Regions from separate parts of the Homo sapiens genome. Here region 1 is linked to region 2. The links come from fine-mapping of genetic effects on gene expression. Tissue or cell type: cerebellar hemisphere. Region 2 holds a variant in brackets; the other region holds the start of a gene. All regions are shown on one strand. Distances are from middle to middle.

What was found. PIP is the estimated chance that this variant, and not a neighbour inherited with it, causes the effect.
Region 1: it holds the start of SIRPA, and the variant in region 2 is fine-mapped to the expression of SIRPA in cerebellar hemisphere (GTEx, PIP above 0.99). The same link has a PIP of 0.9 or more in cerebellum.

Annotation. Positions count from the first base shown.
Region 1 is chr20:1,891,835-1,899,935 of GRCh38, forward strand. SIRPA (signal regulatory protein alpha) reads left to right here and starts at 3,573. Exons shown (of 8, transcript NM_001040023.2): 1 at 3,573-3,692. The coding sequence starts at 3,614. LOC102724545 (a long non-coding RNA gene) reads right to left here and starts at 2,416. Exons shown (of 4, transcript NR_186374.1): 1 at 2,285-2,416. RefSeq lists silencers at 2,537-2,796, 2,807-2,926 and an enhancer at 4,218-4,733.
Region 2 is chr20:1,944,081-1,952,181 of GRCh38, forward strand. PDYN-AS1 (PDYN antisense RNA 1) reads left to right here and starts at 3,130. Exons shown (of 4, transcript NR_134520.1): 1 at 3,130-3,571; 2 at 7,399-7,468. RefSeq lists enhancers at 1,449-1,995, 3,429-3,976 and silencers at 3,123-3,417, 6,763-7,057. The variant GCTGC/G (reference allele first, on the strand shown) is at 3,109.

The DNA.
Region 1 (8,101 bases), 52 kb before region 2:
AATTTACTTATCTTATCGGTTCGTTTCCTCCCACTAGAATGTCAGCTTCTTGAGGGCAGAGATTTTTATCTGTTTTCCAGCTGTTGCATTCCCAGTGCCTGGCACCTAGCAGATGCTTAATACTGTTGAGTGCGTGAGTGAACATGTGTGAAGGCAGTTAGATTTTAACGCAGGGCAGCACAGACCTCCTGCTGTGCGGGTGGCTGATTCATGTCAATTATCTGCCATAATCTCTCTGTGTGGCCTCAGACAAGTTGCCCCTCACATCAGTCTACCCATGGCCCGTGGGTCTCAATGGCTTCTCAGCCTTGAGGTTGGCCAAGGATGATTTTTATGTGGACAGAGAACAAGGGTCAGGGCCCCCTCCAGGGGGAGAGGTGAGGGAAGCCCTGCTGAGCGCCTTTGCCAAAGGTGCTATATATAAATAGCAGGTGGTTCAATTATTATCCTTCCCTAATCTCCAGTTTCCTAATCCCCCAGCAGGTTTGTGAGTGTGTATGTGTCTTGAGGAACAGTGAACAGCAGAGCCTTCTGGAAGTCCAGGGCAGGAGGCTGCCTCTTCTCTGACTTCATCAGCAGCCCCCATCTCCACTCCCACCCCAGATGGAGTCTGGTGACAGATTTTCCCAGGAGCCTCCCTGGTTACCTTCATGGTCTAGACCCGATGTGGCCTGAAGAGTTGGAGACCTTCCCTGCACCCACCTCAGATACCAGGATAACCCCAGAACAATCTTTCTCATTGGTGCCCAATTCCACGCTCCTCTCTCTCCAGTCCACCCTCCGCTTGCAGACTGGCCTTTTAGACACATAAATCAGACATGGCCCTCCCGTGCTGAAAACCCTCTAGGGGTCTCCCAACTGCAGAATAAACGCAGGCTCTTTACCCAGGTCTTGGAGACCATCCCACCCTCCCCAGTCCTGCATACTGCGCTTTCTCTCCTCCGGCCTAGCCACCTGGGGCCTTCCCCTCCTTGTGCTGGGCCCTCTTCCTGGAACACCTTTCTCCCCAAATCTTCGCCTTGCTGACCCTACTTGTGATTCAGCAACCCATGTCTCAGGGAGGTCTTACTGGCCCCCTTATCTAAATACGCTCACCCCTCTCCTTCTCTAAGTTCAATCTTCCGTTCTTCATTAATTATTTCTACTTGTCCACTTACCTGTCTCCCCTAGTAGAATATAAATTCCTCATGGACAGGGACCTCGTGCTCTCCCACACCCAGAGAAATGAAAATTCCCTTGCACTTCAAATGCTGCCCAGAACCCTGTGGGTTCTCAAGGACTGTTGTCAAACACTTCACTTATTTATCAAATGCTTATGTTGCACTTGGTATGTGCTAGGCTCTTTTTAACATGTCTTACAAATATTAACTCATCAAATCCTCACAATTGAGACTCACGCTGGCCTCGTCTCAGATGAAGAAGCTGAGGCACAGAAGAGGTAAGGCACTTTCCAGTCCACCCAGCTCATAACAGTAGCCGGGGGATTTGAACCCACGGAGTTCAGCCCATGTTCTCAAGTGTGGCACCTTCCCTGCCCCCCTGCACAACAGCAGGGCCATGCCTTCACCAGGAGGCTCGGGGCAGGAGGGGAGGCAGTGGTGTTACTTTGCACAGGTCTTTAACCTGGGAATCAGGAATTCAAATCTTGTTTCTACCCCAAGCTTTGCTGTGTGGCCTTAAGCAAACCTATTCCCTCTCCGGGCCTCAACTTTCTGTCCATTTACAGGGTTGGGCCTTCTCTCACCTTGTGTCATTCCTGTCCTCTTAACCGCCACTGTGTGAACCAAAATTCTCTCCCATTAGCAGCGGGGTCTTGAACTTGTGTTCCTCCCACAGTGCGGAGCCTTCTGCCAGGTGACCACGACACTGGCACTCCCCATCACTGACCTGGCTACTACAGGAACGGCGTTCCCTCCGGGAAAACCGGGGTTCTGTCCTCTCCAACTCCAGGCCTCTGGCCCCGGCTCCCCTTCCCCTCATCTTCCTCAGGGCTTGTCCTTCTCCCGGAACCCAGGCCTTCAGGGCCCCGCTCTCCCACACACGCCCCGGCCTGGGCCTCCCACCCGCCCAGTCCGCCCTCCACCACCGAGACACCTGGCCAGGGGGCCTCCACCTCCCTGGGAAGGCCCCGACCCTTCCCCTCTGGTTGCGCGCCACAGCCCCCTTCTCGCTCCCTCTCCTCCCCGCGCCTCTTTTCCAGGCGGCACCGAAGTCCTTCCTACACACACGCTATTTTTGTACCATCATCTCTTCTTCCTCTCCCCTTCCCCCTGCGTTCACTTACTTCCTTCTTTTCCTTCACCTCGGCCCGGCTCTGAAAGGATCGGGCCCCTCCGGCCCGCACCCACCCCCAAGAGGGGCCTTCAGCTTTGGGGCTCAGAGGCACGACCTCCTGGGGAGGGTTAAAAGGCAGACGCCCCCCCGCCCCCCGCGCCCCCGCGCCCCGACTCCTTCGCCGCCTCCAGCCTCTCGCCAGTGGGAAGCGGGGAGCAGCCGCGCGGCCGGAGTCCGGAGGCGAGGGGAGGTCGGCCGCAACTTCCCCGGTCCACCTTAAGAGGACGATGTAGCCAGCTCGCAGCGCTGACCTTAGAAAAACAAGTTTGCGCAAAGTGGAGCGGGGACCCGGCCTCTGGGCAGCCCCGGCGGCGCTTCCAGTGCCTTCCAGCCCTCGCGGGCGGCGCAGGTCCGGGCCCGGCAGGGACGGGGAGGGGCAGAGCGGGACCGGTCGGGGCTGGGGACCAGCCGCGCGGGCTTCTGAACGGGCACGCTGTCGGAGCCGGAGGCTCGTCTAGTCCCGAGCCCCAGCGGGCCGCGGCGGCTCGCGGGGCCGCCTTCCCGGGACAGCAGCCGGGGCCCGGGCGCCGGCGCGGGGGAGGACGCTGCCCTCCCCGGCCGGGCGCGCAGCTCGCAGCCCTCGCTCCCTCCCCCGGGGCGCGCAGGCGGGCGCTCGCTCGCAGAGAAGGTGCCGGCGGGGCCGGAGCCCCGAAGCCTCCCCGGGCGGCGGGAAGACGGGAGGAGGGGAAAGGGAAGGAGGGAGGGGGTCGGGCTGCCGGGAGGGCGGGGGCAGCGGCCGGGACTGCGGGCCGGGAGCGAGCCCAGCCGCCCGCGCCGTGTGGAGCCCGGGCGGGGCAGGTGGGCAGCGGCGGGGGCGGCTCCGCGCGGCCGGGCTCGGCCGTGCTGCCCCTCGCCCCTGCTCGCGCGGTCCTCTCTCCCGCGCGGTCTGTCGGTCTGCGCGCCGCCTCGCTCCTCGCTCCTCGCTCTCCCCCTCTTTCTCCCCCTCTCGCCTCTCCGTGTCTCTGGCTCTCTGCCTGGCTCCCTTGGGTCTGTTTCTCTCTCCTGCCGCCTCTCTCTGGCCGCCCCTGGCTTTATTTCTCGCGCGCTTGGGGTCTCTCCCAGTCTCCGTCTCTCCATTTCTCCTGGGGGGCGGGGAGGGGGGGTCTCCAAAAACCGCGGCGGCGGCGGCGGCCGCTCCAGGCGCCCGTTCCGGAGTCGGGGGGAGGCCCAGCCGGGAGGGGGGAAGGGGGGGAGCCTTAGTCATTTCCCCGCTCCAGCCTGCTCCCGCCCGAGCGCGCACTCACGGCCGCTCTCCCTCCTCGCTCCGCAGCCGCGGCCCATGGAGCCCGCCGGCCCGGCCCCCGGCCGCCTCGGGCCGCTGCTCTGCCTGCTGCTCGCCGCGTCCTGCGCCTGGTCAGGTAAGCACCCCCCCGCTCCCCACCGCTGCACTCCCCAAACTGCGGGCTCAGGCCTCTCAGACTGGCACTGGGACCCCTTCGGCTAATGCCGAGCAGTAATAGGGGGAGAGACGCCTGTAACCAGGGTTATAGATGCAGAAACTGAGGCCCAGAGAGGGCCAGCGACATGCCCAAGGTCACACAGCCAAGGGTAGAACCCAAGTCTCTTCTATGAGAGTTTGTCTCTGTGGACTCTGACTCTGTGCACTGTGCTGGGCACTGAGACAAAAGAGCCGAGTTGCTTCACTCAGCCCCTGCCCGGTCCAATGGGGAAGGCTGACTGACAGTGGCTTTCAGAGCAGGGCCGTCCGGCTTCCCCAGAATCTGTCCCCATGGACATACGACTTTCCACATGTTTGACTTCAGGGTGTGAGGGGAGGAGGTGAGGGCAGAGGTCCTCCCGATGCTGCCTGGAATGGAACAGAGACAAGCTGTTGCAATTAGGGAAGAGTGAGCCCTCCCTCTGGTGCGCAGAGTAAACCGGTGTTAGTGTGTGCCTGGGAGAGAGGGAGCCGGGAGGCCGCGGTAACCCCAGAGCGAGCTGCTGCGAGCAACAGATCCTTATGTAAAAACACGGTGGATTGTCCCTGTGGTTGCCAAAGCCTCTCCCTGGTGGTCTTGCTCCTTGAGGCGCTCCCAGCTCCCCCTTCCTCCTGCCTTCCCCGAGCTTCCAGGCAGCTCCCTGCAGTTCAGGTGCTCCGCGGGGATGTTACCTGTGGCTCTGACCATGTCTTTCTGTTGGCCTACATCAAACACCTGGCTGTCGCCGGCAGGCGGGCTCTGAAGGCTACTGTGCATGTTCACCAAAGGGTGAGGTCACCATTCAGGAGTCTTGCTTCTTAAATGGGTTTTGCAAAACCATGGGTCTCCTGGGAGGGCACCGGGTGGGGGGCGGGGGGAGCAGAGAAATGGCATTAAGGGAGTTGGGAGGGAGAGAAAAATGGGGATCTTGTTTTTTGTCGTCTTGAAACTGTGTTGTAGGCAGTGGGGTCTCTCTGTACCTCCCACCCTTGAGGAGGGAGGTAAAGATGAGCTCAGTGTCCAACACCCCCTTTTGCGTTTGACTAGAGATGGTAACCATCTGATAGCAGGGAGAAAGGGAGAACTAGCAAAGAGTGGGTGGAAGGAGAAGTATGGGGGGTAGACAGCTGCTTCTCTCTGCCCTGCAGTTTCCCCTGAAACCCAGGAATTCACATAGGCATCCCCCCACCCCACCCCACCCTCCACCCCCAGTTCTTTTCAGTTATAGTTGCGTCCTTGCTGGGCTGAAGGGAGCACTGATACAGTTCACGTCTCTCCAGTGAGTGGCATCTCCTATCTGCTCCTTCCTGCCTGAGCTGGCCATTTGTACCCTGCAAAAGTCCGAGTTCCTGCCCTGCCATCCTTCCTGGCCTGGAAATGCACAAGTGTCACTCACAAGTGCTTAATTTTCCTGAAGCAGGGAATTGGGCCCGAGTTAATTTCTAAATGTCTATTCCAGACCCTTCTCCGACCAGGAGGCTGTGGTTCAGTCCCTGGCAAACGAGCAGTGACGCTGATTAGCAAGTGCTCCGATGGGCAGCCTGCCTTTCCTGGGGCACCGGCTGGGAACACCAACACCTTTCTTGTGAGCACATCTCCCCCTTTTGCCTATAAAAACAGTCTATAAGATGGTAAAGATTGGGCCATAAAACTTCCGTTCCAATCCATTCAGCATCAATAGCCTGAAAAAGTGGGAGCAGCAGAGGGGCCAAGATTAGCTTTGAAATAAATAAATCTTAGGAGGTAAGAATGAATTTCTTGGTCGAGGGTGGTGGGGAAGGGATGAGGTGCGACCATCATAGCTCAAGTCTCCCATTATCCTTCAGTATCTGTTCTTCGGGGTCCTGGTCACACCATGGGCCTGGGCAGGGAAGTCACCTGGTTTGGCTGAAGGATGGGGCCTCAGGCCCCTCCCCCTATTGCTCCAGACATGGAATTTACAACAAAGAAGTAGAGAGACAGGATATGAGGGTAGGAAGGTACAAGGAGGCAGTTGTCCAATTTTCTAAGAAAATGGATTTGTTCGAGTGAGAAACTAAAATGTCAGGTTTAGGAAGGCGGCTTTGGATTGAATGACTACTAGTGTCTCAGGCAGAACTGTCAGCCTGGGAGGTGTCACATGATTCCTGTGTCTTCACATGATCACTGTTTTGGGGGGGTGGGGCCAATCATGTGAATTATCCTGGGTGGGGGAGGCAAGAGAAGAAGTTTCTAAAGATTGCTTTTAGCACAAATGCTGCCAAAGGGAAATTCTAAAAAGATCCCAGTGAAGTCACCAACCTATGTTTTTGGACCCAATGTGAGGCCTGTTTCCTAAAACAACTGCACTGAGGGAGATTCTGAGGCTGGGAGAAGGGCAAGGGACTGAGGCCTGGGGACACCTGGCACCTGATTTTGTGTCAGCAGGGCCTGACGCTGAACCCGCAGGATGCCTGCTTGGCCCCAGGTAGGCCTTGAGACCTCTGAGTCACCCCCCAGGCCGACCTCAGATAAACTCCCATTCATTTCTTCTCTCTGGCCTGGAGGAGGCCAAGCCAAGTTGCAGTTCAGGCTCTGGGGAGCAGCGGGGCCCCCCAGTGAACCTCTCACCGTTTGGTAGAGGGTGGCACTCTGGGGGCTCCTCTGTACTTTCCTAAATGGTAAAGTTAATCTCACTTCCTCTTTCGTAAGAAGAGAAAACGGGGCGGGAGTGCTTTGGCTCAACACATCAGGCTGTTGGAAGTTCCTTTAAAGCCATAGTTTTCTCTGAGTACTTTCTGGCCTTTACCAACCCCTCGGAAACTCACGGTAATTCACGTCTGTACTTGCAGTCATGCAGCACCTATGCAGTGCTGGTGTGAACCATGTGTTGAGAGAAGGGAGGAAAACCAACATTCATTAGATAGTTAATGGCGTTCCAGGCCGGATGCTGCTCCTGCGTCGTCTCACCCGCAAGACATGGATTGGCTCTTCTCCCCATTCTGCAGATGCAGAAAATCGAGTCCCAAACTGGGGAACTAACTTATAAGTGATAGAGAGGAGCCAGGATTTTGGATGCTGGCCTTCCTGCTGGGTGGCTTCTAGGGAAGAAGCTCAATGACTTAATCAGGATGATTTAGTCCAAGCTGGAGAGGGAGTGAGAGAGGCCCCTTTCTGGCCTTGGGTGGAGGACTGTAGAAGAGTTCTTTCTCTGGGCAGAAGGTTTTGATGAAGTCACAGGCATTTCTCTGAAAGCCTGCTGAGGGTGGAAATACTGACAGCCCCTTGGTCCTCACCAGTAACAACACATGAGAGGTGATGTGGCTCCTGTGAGAGCCCCCCATCTGGGCTGCTGAGCTCTGGAGCCCCCAGAGCTGGAATATTCCTCCCTGCATCTTCCTGGTGCCCTTTGCGACAGATGGAGAGGGGGTGTGCGAGAGGAAGGGAGTCTAAAAGTGTTGTACGGATCCCACACGCGCTCGCTTGCTGCTTCCAATGGCTCCGTGCGACAGGTTATTTTCTTATTTGTAGTCTTGGACTGACGGAAGGTTTCCCCCCTCTCTCTCTCTTTTTAAATGTGCTCAGATTTCTGGCCTGTCAACACAACTCAGATCATGTCACTCCCCAGCTCAAAACTGTTGAGTGGGTCCAAGTTTTCTTTAAAAAAAAAAAACAAAAAAACACAAAGCTGCCGTGAGGCCTGGGCTTCCTCCCTGCCAGGCCTGATTTCCAGCCACATGTTTTCCAACAAGCTGACCTGTTGAGATGCTGCAGGATAACCAGGCTTCCTCCCTGCAGACCAGAGCTTTGCTGGCTACTCAGCCACACGAGCACCCCAAAGACCCTGAGAAGCCCTGCAATGTAGAATCCCGAGCTGGGTCACATTTACTCCAGTGTTCCCTGAACTTATGAACGAGAGGCATTTGATTTGTAGTATGCCCGTTAGCATGTGGCCTCTCTCCGTTTGGTAAACGGTTTTCTACAGATCCATGCCCTCAGCTGAACTCTCAGCTCTGTGCCTTGGCCCGTGCTGTTCCTGCCATCAGAAATGCCCTCCCTGTACCTCCTTGTCTTCCTGTGTCTGAATCCTACTCATCCTCCGAGGTTCAATTTAATGTGCCTCCTGGGGAGAGGTCAGAGGAGCCTCTCCACGCAGACACACACCCTGGCCTAGCGCTAAGATGGTGCTAAGACCCCTGGGTGTTGATCTGAGCCCTGCTACTGACTTGGACAATTTGCAGGAATCTGTGTCTCATTTTGCTCATCTGTAAAAGAGGAATGGTATTAACCACTCTATTGCAAGGATTAAGTTAATTAATGCGTGTATAATGCTGGAAGCCATGCCTTGTATGTAGTAAGCACTCAATACATATTAACCAGTGTTGTAATTA
Region 2 (8,101 bases):
TATCTTTGGAGATATTTTTTTTCTGCCAGACAGAAGCCATTTGCACCCACCAGACAAAAGTCTACAAATTAGCCCCAATCTGGGCCTTAATCAAATAGGAAAGACAAACTCAGGTATATTCTTCTACAGAACTAACTAATCCTTCAGTGGGGCTTTTAAACCGTGCCCCAGTATGGCAACGAGATGAAGCACTGCCTTCTTTTGCCTTATTTCCAAATTTGAGATACTTTGTCTTATTAAAGGAAAGTATACTGGCTTCATTCAGCCTGCACAGGGCAGAAAAAGACTTCTTGAAGAGGAAATCCCTGAACTGAGATCTAAAAAATAAGTAACAAGAAGCCAGGTAAGTGCAAAAGAGCCAGTGCAAAGGAGTTCCAAGGAGCCAGTGCCTGGCAGAGGCCAGCCGTCCCTGTGTGCACTGGCCCCTACTGAGCTCTGCAGCCCGATTCACACCACTCTCTCCATCACTCCCTGCACTGGCAACACCAGCCTCCTGCCAGTTTCTAAAATGAACCACAGGACCCCGGCATGAGCTACTCCCTCTGCCTGCAACACTCCCTGGATCTTTCCTGCTTGTCCTCCAATCCAGAGGCTGGGCTAAGTTCCCTTGTCAAACACTTCCATAGTAACCATGTCCAGCCCTTCTTTGTAGCCCTCATCTCAATTTGTAATTATACATTGGCACTGTGATTACATGATTACCATCCTCTCCTCTACTGCCCCAGTTGCTGCCTCAGGGCAAGGAGGGTGTTGATTCACTCATCAGTGTAACTCCTATGCTAAGCCCATAGGAGGCACCCAGCAAATATTAGAGGGATGGGAGGATGGACGGAGTGATGAGAAGGAGGATGAGAGGATAGATGGATGGAAGAAGGGAGGCTGAATGGATGGCTGGATTGATGCAGGAGAGCACGGATGGGTGGATGGGTGGGAAGGAAGAAAGGAAGGGGGAGAGGGAGGGAAGAGAGCAAAGGGGGAGAAGGAAGAGCATAAAAGTCGGAGTCTGCTTGGCATTTTAGGAGAACTGAGAGTCCCTGGCTGGCAGGTTTGGAACTAGAAGCAAACCTCAGTACATCTGACTTTTCCCACTGAGTTTCTCTGCCTTTCATCATGATCCTGGGTTCAGGGCAATCACTTTTTTAAAAAAATGACGCATGATCCCCAACAGGCAAGGAGCCAATGACCTTTGTCTGAGCCTTTGGTTCCTCTTCTAGAGAAACTGGGGCTATACTTAGAAAACAGGATAAAAGATTGCAAAAATTTGTCTACTCTCAAATTGCACAACCCTAGCGTGGCTGGTCAATGGCTCAACTTTGGGAGCTGGCGGGGCTCAGCCTCTCAACAGACTTGTCCTCCTGGCTCTGCTTCAATGACAACAGGCCAAGCCCTCATGGTAGAAGGTGCCGTTCCCACCAACCTGGGCCTTCTGCCCCCGCAGGCCCTCTCTGGGCAAGGTCAGCTGGTGCGGCAGCCGGTCGCATGGATCTGGGCCACAGACCTGTCTCCAGAATGAGGCCGGGTGAGAGTTTAATGGCAAGAAGGCTGCAGCCTGACTAAGGCTGTCGGCTTGATTCTGCCATGGCTCCCCCCCATGCCAGTAAATGGACCCTGTGCACATGCAGATTAATGCATTATCGCTAATGTTTTGTGCCAGATGCAAAGGCACTCGGGCAGCCCGGCCGAGAGCTGCCATTACCACAGGACCTTTTGCTGGAAAATTTTTCTTGGGGCAATTAAATCTTCAGCTGTCTCCTCCAAGGGAGTGCCAGCTTGCATTTTAATTATCCTCAAAAGAGGGAAGTAGGGGAAAGGACACAAGGCAAAGAATGAAAAAATAACAACCTGCTTTATAAACACAGTGGTTTCTCCCCCATCAACTCCACAGTGCCCTTGACCTTTAGATTCCTGCCTCCCGATACCCTTGGAAGGACCCCTTTAACGGGAAGAAGGGAGAGGAGGTAGGAGAGAGCGTTTCTTGAGTGTGGAATAAGTGTTAGTGCAATGCATTATGCCTGGTTAATTTTTTTTAAATTTTTTTTGTAGAGACAGGGTTTCCCTATGTGGCCCAGGCTGGTCTCAAACTCCTGGGCTCAAGTGATCTTCCTGCCTCAGCCTGCAAGTAGCTGGAACTACAGGTGCATGCCAACCAGCCCAGCTAATTTTTTAAAAAAATTTTTGTAGAGACTGGGTCTCCCTACGTTGCCCAGGCTGGTCTCAAATTCCTGGGCTCAAGTGATCCTCCTGCTTCAGTCTCCCAAAGTGCTGGGATTAGAGGCGTGAACCACCATTCCCAGACTCATGGAAAGTTCGAGAACCGGCAAAACTCATCAGTCAGGTGCTAGGGCGAGGGAAGCACTTGACTAAAAGGGACAAAGGGAACTTTCGGGGACCTGGAAATGCTTATCTTGATTGAGGTGGTGCTTACATGGGTGTACATATCAGTCAAAACTCATCAAACTGTATACTTTAAAATGAGTGCATTTTATTGTTTGTAAGTTAATACTTTAATAAAGTTGATTTTAAAATAATAATAAAATAATACGAGTTAATATTTATCTAGACCTTACTATGTGCCGTCCTAGTCGCGCTTCGTATGTGTTAAGCCCTTTATCCCTCACTCCAATCTGTGACATAGGCACTCAGTACCCCGTTGCCCAAATGAGGAAATTGAAACACAGAGAAGTTTGGCAACTTTCTAAAGTGACGCAGCTAGTAAGAGGCAGGGCCTGGGTTCAAATGGAGGCAGATTTTAAGCCTATAGCTGAACAGCGAAGTCCAAGATTACCCAACTGGTTATTACTAGAGGCAGGATTAAACCCCGGTGCCTTTCCAACGTGATGAAACCGGTGGAAGAGGAAAACGCATTCATTCACTAGGGAAACATTTACTCATCCTCCGCTGCAGGTCGAACTGTAGACACAGAGAGCAACAGACAAATCCCAGGCCCTCGTCGGGGAAGAAAGGGATCATGAAATAAACAGAAAAATAAATGCGAAATGCGGCCAGCGATGAAAGCTCAGAAGGCGAGCTTACCCCGGACCCAAACGCGCAATACTAACCGGGAGTGTAAGGAGGCCACGCCCTCCTCGCGTATTTGTGCCCAAATGA[GCTGC/G]CTCCCCAGCGTGCACCAAATTCCTGAGCCACCTGCTCCGAGCTCGATTTCCCTTTCAAGCTGTGTGTTCTGCGGGGGCAGGGAGAGCTGCAAGGGCTCATCTTTCAGGACGTGCTGCAAAGGCCCTTTGAAGTCATCCGCCCTGCTCTTGGCACCTTGCGCCTGGAGCTGAGCTCTTCCAAAAATGACCCCTGCGCATTCCGTGGTGCGGCCGCCCAGCCCAGGCAGTCGCGGTCCAGAGCAGGGGAAGCTGCAGCGCGGCCGACAGCTGGGAGAGCCGAGGCCCTGAGGGAGGACCCTGCCTCAAGCCAAGCAACCAGGCCCTGCGGCCCTCTCCCCACCCCTGTGCGGCCCTGGCGCAGGGAACCGGGACGGGGCTTTCAGGCCTTGAAGGGCAGACTTACTCCACCAAACATTCCCATCGTCGGCTGATGGAGGGCCTCGAGCTGGGCGCTGTGGGTACGTTATCCTATTTACTTCTCTCGGTAGCCCTGCACCATCGCCTCTGGTTCCCAGGTAAGCACAGAGAAGCAGATGACTTGCCCAAGATCACACAGTACTGCAGGAATAGAATTGGCGTCTGGACCTCTCCCCTAATACCCCACGGCCTCCAGAATCTCACCTCAGCCCCTGTCCATCCCGAAATAAACACTCTACACCATTTAGTGAATGTTCTTTCAGAGGTCAGACCCTATACATTCATTTCCTGGCTCCCCCATTTCCTGACTGCGTGACCTTAAGCAAGTTTCTTAACCTCTCTGTGTCAGCGTCCTCCTCTGTAGAATGGTGCCAAAAACTGTACCTATCCCAGAAGGTTACTGTGAGGACCAAATGAGACAAGACAATAAATGTAAAAGTGGTTAAAACTGTGCCCAGATGATAGTGAGCCCTCAAAAACTAGTCACTCTTCTAATTCCATAGACTTGATTAATTTCTGGTTTTTCATAAGTGGATTTACATGTATACATTTAAGGCACCTTTCCAAGTAAGACATACAGGTCTACCTCATTCTTTCAAGCAGCTTCATAACATTCTTGTATTCATTCATTCATTCATTCATTCATTCACCAAACATGTGTAGAGCGGGCAGCTCCTGTACACCAGGCAAGGGCATACAACACACTCAGTCCTTGCTCTGAGTTCTCATGGGAGGGATAATTGACAAATGCATGAATAAATAGTTGAGAGCATTTCACCTTATACTGAGTGCTATGAAGAAAATAAGATGGGGCCAGGCTCTGTGGCTCATGCCTGAAATCCTAGGACTTTGGGAGGCCGAGGCGGGCAGATCATTTGAGGCCAGGCATTCAAGACCAGCCTAGGGTTTTAGTAGAGAAAATCCATCTGTACTAAAAATACAAAAAAACAAAACAAAACAAAAATGCTCTATGTGGTGGTGCATGCCTGTAATCCCATCTATTCTGGAGGCTGAGGCACCAGGATTATTTAAATCTGGGAGGCAGAGTTTGCAGTGAGCCGAGATCTCACCACCACACTCCAGCCTGGGTGACAGAGTGAGACTCTGTCTCAAAAAACAAAAAAAAAAAAAGAAAAAAGAAAAAAGTAAAAAGAAAAGATGGACAAAGTGTTAGAGAGACGCTGGTTGGGAGAGGGAAAACAATTTACAGACAGTGCGTGAAGTCCCCAGGGATATGGCATTTTACTGCCACCGGAAGGAAGAGAAGGAAGGAGAATGGAGCAGTCCAGGCAGAGGAAGCAGCCAGGGCAAAGGCTGGGAGGCTGCACTAAGCTCAAGTGTGATTCAACTGGAGGTAAAGAATGAGCATTTTTGAAACCAGGTTGGAGAGTCAGGCCAGGGCCCAGTGAGACAGCGCCTGTGGATTTTAGCCTGAGAGACATGTGAAGTCCCTGAACCCGGGGGTCCTGCAGCTGTGTAGGAACAGATTGGAGAGGCACCAATGGAGGAACCAGGAAGTTTGTCAGGCTACAGGATTCAGAGGCACGGGCAAGAGGCGATGGTGGCAGGGACTAGGGATGCAGCCTCCAGCCTGGAACATGCCTCAGTGGCAGAGCCCACGGGACCAGCTGATGGGGAAGACAGAGTTGAAGGAAAAAAAGAAACAAGTTGCCACTGACAGATGTCAACATAATAATTTAATTAATGAATTCCCTATTGATGGAGAGCTGGACTGTTTCTATTTTTTCCCTACTTGCAAACAATTTTGTCTTAAACATTATTGCATAGATAGCCCCAGATATGAGATGCTTGGATCAAAGGGGTGAACTTTTTTTTTTTTTAATCATATCCAGATGGCCACATTGCCTCCATTCCACTTGTGTCCAACATGCAGGAGTTCCAGTTTCTACCCTGGAACTTTCTCCTCCTGCTGTGCTCCTGGGAACACTCTGCCCAACCCCTCCACCTCTGGCACAGACCCGGTCTCCAATGCATTTGTATTTCTTGCTGCAATCTGGAATTATAAGTTGTTAAGAAGAAAACCTCAGAACCAGGCTAAGTGGCTAAAAAGACTGCCCAGGGGCCTCTTTTTCCAGCAGGAGGCAGAGAGAGGCTTCCAACACCCTGAAGAGGGCCAGTTTACCCCTATTCTTCCAAATACAAGGAATTGACTTTTATTTTTTTTTCCCTCTTCAGGCCTGAAAACAAGCCAGAGCATTGAATGGCCATGAAAACAAGCAGTGAAAACAGGCCCTGAGGTTACAGGAAACCCTTCTCCCCACCACTCTCTGAGCAGCGGGAAGGAAGGGAGCCACTGTCCTCTGGGTCCTCTGCCCTTCAGCCCTCCTGGAGGCCCACTGGCCTTCCCCATCTCACATGTGATCAATGCCCCCTGGTTGTGGCCACCACCTGCTGCCTGACCCCCATTCCATGCCAGCTTTTGCTACCAGAGTTTCCTTTTCATAAGTGGCCTTTTTAAAGGAAGTATTTTCTTTTAATCAGCAGTCACTGCATCTGTAACAGTGCTGAAGCAGAATTTTGTTATTTTCCCATTACTTAGCGCTTCTCTGTTCCATTTATTTGGGGGAAGAATCGCTAAGATTTCAGAGATTCGTAGCTCTCTTGTACGCGGTATCTGATTTTCACTTTGGCATTTGGAGATGCTTTTGAAGGTGGTTTATGTTATCTTTCCAAGACTTACCTGGTGAGTTACTTAATCAAGAGAGGATTTTGAAACATACTGCCTCTTAATATCTTGTCTTTTGTTTTTGTTTTGTTTTTTTGAGACAGAGTCTCACTCTGTCGCCCAGGCTGGAGTCCAGTGGCATGATCTTGGCTCACAGCAACCTCTGCCTCCCCAGATCAAGCAATTCTCCCACCTCAGCCTCCTAAGTAGCTGGGATCACAGGCACACACCAGCACACCTGGCTAATCTTTGTATTTTTAGTAGAGACAGGGTTTCGCCATGTTGGCCAGGCTGGTCTCGAACTCCTGACCTCAGGTGATCCACCCACCTTGGTGTCCCAAAGTGCTGGGATTACAGGCGTGAGTCACCGTACCCAGCCTATCTTGTCTTTTAAAACAAGTGACTTTTTTTTTACAGCAAAATAAATGGATAGCAACTCTTTGACACTGCTAGTAACTATTATTAATTGACTGCTTAGGAAATGTCAGCTGCCAGGCTGGGCTCATTCCCATTGGATCTTCTCCGCAGCTCTCTAAGGGAGGTGTGAGTTTTTGTATACATTTAATGTGTGAGGACACCAAGGTATGGAGAAGTTGACTACTATCAGTAACTTACCCAAAGTTACAGACCAGGGCAGAAATGAGGTGCAGATTCCATACTCCCCAGGGCCCTTCCTTTGTAACCATGGTTACAAAGCCTCTCAGAGGGAAGGCGGCGGATTCTCCTGCAGGTCACTGTGGCAGTGACATGGGCAGGGGTGGCGGACAGACACATGTTCCCGTTTGTTCTTACTCTTGTCCGTGGCACCTCTTCCTTCCGACTGCTGGTCCAGCCGATCCATGGGCCTTGCAAGTCCACACTAGAGGCAGAATCCCTTGTTCTAGATGACTCCTAAAGGCTCAGCATCTCTAATTCTCTGATGGGATGCTGACTAAGGCACAGGGGTTTCAATTCTATTTGGGAAGTGACCTGTTCCCCTCCATCTAGACTAGACAGATTTAACAAATAAAAATAGAGGACCCCCAATCACATTTGAATTTCATAAAAATAATGAATACTTTTAGTATATATCATGCAATATTTGAGATATAAAAATCACTTGCTGTTTGTCCAAAGTTCAACTGTAACTGGGCATAGATATCCTGTATTTTCTCTGTCAACCCTCTCTCCGTCCCCCAGTAGATGCCCTTCTAGAGAGACCTGCCAGACTGAGCCGCTTCCGTCAGCCAGACATGAGGATAAGAGCGTTTAGGTAAGTGCTTGGTCAGCATGGAAGAGCCTTGGGGAACTGAGTGGGGTGGGACAGGCTGAGGAGCCTTACGGGGCCTTGGTTTCCCTGTCTTGGCTACAGTGTGGAGCTCGGACATCCCCAAGGAGCCCACCGTCCACACATTGACGGTCGCTGCTTTTAACATAAAGTCCAGCTCCCCTAGTGAGGCACTGAAAGGCCCTGTCTGCCACCCCACCTCGCCTCCTGCCCAGCTCACACAGCCACCTGGAAGGACTTAAGAGTCCCTCCCAAAACAATCTCTTCTCACCTGTACCTTCACTCTTCTTGCCTGCCTTCCTTGTGTGCTGTTTAAACTCCTATTCACCCTTTATGCCTTTAATGCCACCTCCTCCCAGAAGCCTTCCCTGACCACTGCAGGAAGAGAGGCAGTTGCATTCACTTCCCTGTCACTTTGGGCCTCTTTGACAGTTTGATTACAATAAAATTACAGCTTATGCAAGTTTAACGTGTGCTTCAGACAAAAGAAAAAAGAAAAAATACAGAAAGAAAGACAAGAAGAGAGAAAGAAATTAAGTAAGGACCATGTGGCTCAATGGGCACACACCCTAAGTGGTTATGAGATAGAGGCAGAATCTGCTCTCTGAGGCTCAGTCC